Regions from separate parts of the Homo sapiens genome. Here region 2 is linked to region 1. The links come from fine-mapping of genetic effects on gene expression. Tissue or cell type: whole blood. Region 1 holds a variant in brackets; the other region holds the start of a gene. All regions are shown on one strand. Distances are from middle to middle.

Evidence for each region. PIP is the estimated chance that this variant, and not a neighbour inherited with it, causes the effect.
Region 2: DNM3 starts here. The variant in region 1 is fine-mapped to the expression of DNM3 in whole blood (INTERVAL, PIP above 0.99).

What each region holds. Positions count from the first base shown.
Region 1 is chr1:171,921,390-171,924,079 of GRCh38, forward strand. DNM3 (dynamin 3) reads left to right here. Exons shown (of 21, transcript NM_015569.5): 2 at 359-432. Among named protein-coding and RNA genes, the nearest start is that of DNM3-IT1, 59 kb to the left of the region's middle. The variant G/A (reference allele first, on the strand shown) is at 1,556.
Region 2 is chr1:171,840,145-171,842,834 of GRCh38, forward strand. DNM3 (dynamin 3) reads left to right here and starts at 1,354. Exons shown (of 21, transcript NM_015569.5): 1 at 1,354-1,673. The coding sequence starts at 1,513. RefSeq lists a silencer at 1,169-1,398 and an enhancer at 1,599-1,778.

The DNA of each region.
Region 1 (2,690 bases):
AGAATTAATTTCAGTATCACATATTTTCTTTAATGCTGATTCTCTGAAAATCAAAATTCATTGATAATACACAGAAACTAAGGGCAAACTTTTATCAGTTTCAGCTAGATGAATGAATGACATATTCCAGTGAAGTCATTATGATAATGTACATGGATTTCTGTGCAATATAAGGCCCTCCTCCTCCTTTTTTTTAAATTTGAAAATGCTTCTTTTATTAAGATGGGCCTATCATTGTTTGGATAAGCGATACATTGAAAGGTTGGGAATTAGGAGAATTGCTGTGGAACTTGGTTTATGAATGTACAGGTGATAAGAATTCCTTCATGCCTTAATCTGTATTTCTTACTTTTTTTAGGGACTTTCTCCCTCGAGGGTCGGGCATTGTAACAAGACGACCTCTTGTGCTGCAGCTTGTTACTTCTAAAGCAGGTAATGAATGAAGATGTTTACCGCATGGATGGGCACATCCTGTGGCCCCTTTTGCCTTCATAGGTGTGGGATTGTACAAATAGAAACGTTTTTGTGATCGCCCCACTGTGGGCAGCTGCCCACATTTCTCTCCAGAATGCTGCCTTCTTCATTGCTCTTTTCATTCCTTTGATTACATTAAAGGGGATATTTTCATAGATTTTTTTAAAATACCTACTTAAAAAAATGTTTTATTGCTCATTGTAATCCATCTATATAATTTTACAGTACAGCACAACCACTAATACTCCTTTGGTATGCTTTGTGTGTGTGTGTGTGTGTGTGTGTGTGTGTGCGTATGTGTGCATGCACATGCACTTGGGGATTAACTCATAAAATTCAACAACCATATAATATCTGTATGGATGTGTATGTGCGTATCTATATTTACACTGTGCTATGCTTCCTTCTCTCTCTTACATCATGATAATTTGATAGGTAAATGATGCTTTGTTTTTATTTTCATTTTATTTCAGCAACTGATGATGTTGAATTTTTTTTTCATGTTTATTTGCCATTTGTATTTCTTCTCTCGTGAATTGGCCATTTTTCTTTTTCCCCATTTCTTTTTGGGGATTTTACTAGTTTTCCTATCAATTTCTTTGAATGCTTAAGACTGAAGCACCTCATAAAAATCATCTATCATAAATTGCAAATATTTTTAATAGCTTGTTAAAGATACAGTTTACATACCATACAACTTGACCAATAGAAGTTAACAGTTGAATAGATTTTAGTCTTTTCACAGATATGTGCAACCATCTCCACAATCAGCTTTAGAACTGTTTGATCACTCCCAAAAGAAAGCCTGTATGTTTCTGCTGTCACCTCTTTTCATAACACCTTTCCCCACCACTCCAGCCTAGGCACTACTAACCTATGTTCTGTCTCTATGGATTTCCCTATTCTGGACATGTCATATGAATAGAATCATTTAATATGTGGTCTTTTGTAATAGGCTTTTCTTGCTTGGCATAATCTTTTCAAGGTTCATCCATGTCGTAGCATGTATTAGAACTTCATTTCTTTTTATGGCCTAATAATATTCCATTGTCTGGATAGATCACATTTTGTTTGTCCATTC[G/A]TTAACTGAGGAGCATTTGAGTTGTTTCCACCCTTTGGTTATTATGAATGATGTTGCTATAAACATTCATGTACATGTTTCTGTGTGGACATGTGTTTTCATTTCTCTTAGAAATATACCTGAGTATAATTGCTGGGCCATGTAGTAACTCTCTGTTTAATTGTTTAAGGAACTGACAGACTGTTTTCAAAGCAGCTGCCCCATTTTACATTCCTACCGGCAGTGTATGAGGGTTACAGTTTTTCTATATCCTTGCTAACCCTTGTGGGTAAGAAGTGATATCTCACTGTGGTTTTGACTTGCGTTTTCCTAATGACTAAAGATACTGAGCATCTTTTCATGTGCTTAATGATCATTTGTATATATTATTTAGATAAATGTGTATTCATTTCCTTTGCCTAGTTTTAAATTTGGTTATTTGCCTTTGTATTACTGAATTGTAACAGATATATATTAAATACAAGTCCCATATCAGATATTTGATTTGCATTTTTTTTTTCTATTTTATAGGCCCTTTTCATTTTCTTGGCAGTGTCCTTTGAAGCACAAGATTTTTTATTTTGGTGAAGTCCAATTTATCTACTTTTTTCTTTCATTTCTCGTTATTTTTGTATATATCTAAGAATCCTTTGCCAAAACCAAGGTTATAAAACTTTATTCTATGTTTTCTTCTAGGAGATTTATAGCTTTGATCTTCCACTTAGGTCTTTGATCCATTTTTTAAAATTACTAATTTTTAAATTTTAAATTTCATTTTAGATTTGGGGATAGGTACAGGTTTGTTATATTGCATAATGTGTAATGCTGAGGTTTGGGTTTCTAGTGAAACTATCACCCAAATAGTAAACGCAGTCCCCAATAGGTAGAATTTCAACCTTCACCCCTCTTCCACTCTTCCCCCTTTTGGAGTTCTTTGCATCTGTTTTTCCCATCTTTATGTCCATGTTTACCCACTGTTTAGTTCACACTTGTAAGTGTGAATGTGTGGTATTTTATTTCCTATTTCTGTTATTTCTCTTAGAATAATGGCCTCCAGCTCAGTCCATGTTGCTGTGAAGGACATGATTTCATTCTTTTTTATGGCTGCATAGTATTCTATGGTGTATGTGTCCCCTGTTTTCTTTATCCAGTCAAC
Region 2 (2,690 bases), 81 kb before region 1:
GTTCCGATTTCTATTACCATAGAATAGCTTTGCTGGTTGTAGAACTTCACATACATGAAATCAAACCAATATGGTCTTTGGCCTTTTTCATTCTACATAATGTATCTGAGATTGTTGCTATATCAAAAGTCTTTTTTGTGGCAGAGATTATTTCACTATATATATATACCACGTTTGTTTATTCATTCACCTGTTGATAGACATTTGGGTTGTTTTCAGGTTTTTTGACATTATGAACATTTTAATATGTCTTTTTAGAGTTAGAAGGAACTGTACATTAAATGCTGAGATTACAAAAGATGACTTCAGTTTTGAATAAATTGAGTCTGTAGTACTTGTAGGACACTCAGGTAGTATTCTGGGCTCCTCTTGGAGTACAGTCTAAGTTGCAGAAGAGAGACAGGGTCTAGCAATGTAAATTTCTGTAGTCGCCAGCCTTGATTCAGAGTTAAAGCTATGGGAAAGTCCTCAGGCAGAGGACAAACATTAGACAAGAAAATGCCCATATATGAAACCCTGCGAAGCATCAGTATTTGAGGAGCAGACTAAAAAGGAACCGTCTGTGGAGGCTAAGAGAAGCATGGCCATTTATCTTTGTGTCCCGATCATCAGGCACAGGACCCCACACACAGTCACTTCTCAATGTGCTAAATTTCACAGAATGCGTCCAGGGTACCTGGTTCTGGATAGATCCGGTAGAAGGAGATAGACCGGGAGGGCAAATGGCATGAGGAGTCTCACAGGCCAGAGTGATTAAAGGGGTGTATCGGGGCGGTAAACCCTACAGACTCTACCTGTGCTTATGCGGGGCTGGGGAGGACGAGTCATTACAGATGAAGAATTAAGTAAGGTCAGACCACTCAGGGCCTTAGATGGATGTCACATTGAAGAATTTAGACTCCAACAGGCCTGCCACCCTGGGAGGAGTCATCGCGGATTCTGGAGAAGGGCGTGACAGAGGAGATTTCCTTTCGGGAAGTGTAGTCTGGCAGCGGTGCCCCGGTGGTGGCGGCGGCGGTGCTGCTGTTGCTGGTGATCGTGTGGTGGTGTTAGCGGCGATAGTGCTTTCCACTGGGCTTTGGCTTGGTAGCCGCTGAAAGAGAACAACGCTGCCGCTGCTGCTGATTTCATGCCATTTCCTGACCCGGCGCTGTAACTTGGCCTCTGAGCCTTGGCCACAGAACGCAGAGGCCGTGGCATCTGGCCGCAGCTGGGCTGCAGTGCGTGCGCGCCTGGCCTGGTGGTCCGATGGGAAGCCCGGGGCGGGGCAGCCGCGGGGCGGGGGCGGGGCGTCGCGGAGATAGGCCACGCCCCTGCCCGCCCGCGCAGGCGCGCTGCGGGTCGTTAGCTGTCAGAGCCAAGCGGCGGGCTGGCGGCGGGCTCCGACGTCTGCGCCAGGACCTGGCTGGCTGAGCCCGGCGCAGCAGCAGCAGCCAGGGCAGCGCGGCCCCTACTCCCTGTCAGGTCGTAGAGGCGAGCAGGGACCAGCTGGTCGCCGGCCCCTCGGGCAAGATGGGGAACCGGGAGATGGAGGAGCTGATCCCGCTGGTGAACCGTCTGCAGGACGCGTTTTCGGCGCTGGGACAGAGCTGCCTGCTGGAGCTGCCGCAGATCGCCGTGGTGGGCGGCCAGAGCGCCGGCAAGAGCTCGGTGCTCGAGAACTTCGTGGGCAGGTAAGCGCGCAGGGCGCGGAGTAAGGATGCGGCAGTGGGGCGACCCCGCTGCGGGCCGTTGGAACGTGGACGGGCAGCGGGAGCCAGAGGGTGGATGGACCAGGCGCTGCGGTGGAATGGGGGGCAGAGTGGAATGGGGGGCAGAGTGGCGGTGTCCGTGGGGCGGGCGGGGTCCTCCAGCTCTGGGCATCCTCCGTCCCCTGCCACCCCCCGCCTGGTGGCCCTCCTGCCTGCCTTTCATCGTGCGATACAAAGCCATTTCCTCCCTGTCCTCCAGTCGGGGAGTCGGGGGAGGGGTCCGCCCCGGGCTCGACCCCCACCCCCTCGGTGCGCGCCAGCCCCGGGCAGCCTCCCTGCGTAGCGCGCCGAAAGCTTCCCAGTGCCCCTCTCCTGTTTTCCCAGCTCAACACCCCCCTCCTTTTCCTGTCGCCCTCCGTGAGGCTCCCTGTGAGGCTGTGGGGCTTTATCCCCCGAGCCCCCTCCCTTAGGTGGAGATGCTTTCCTTCTCGCCAGGGTTCTCGTTCCTCTCAGCTGTCTACTGTTGCCTGCCTCTAGCTGGGGAGGCGGGGTGCGAGGAGAAAGACGTCGTTTGTTGTGGTGAAGCTTTATCCAGAGACGCTTCCCCACCATTCTCCTCCCGGAGAGTCGAAGAATAAAAGGTGGTGTGTTTGCGTGTGCACCTATTCACAGCTTCAGGCAATTGTGAGAGAGCCCGAGGCACAGACTTGGCAGGGGGTGGACGTGGACTTATGTTGTCCAGGTGCCATGTCATTCCTGCATCATCTCGGAACTGACCAGCATCTTTCTCGCACTCTCTCTGCGCCCCCTCCCCCAGCATCATCTTCCGTTCTCTAAGCTCCTATTTGTCTTGCTAGCCTTCAAGACAACATTCTGAATCTAAATTGTAGCTGTGGTTTTCCTCATGACTCTTAATACAGAAACAGCTAAGGAATTAATTTTCGAATTAGGAATCAGCATTTCTTCCACTGAGCAATTCATGAGGGATTAAGTTACCTT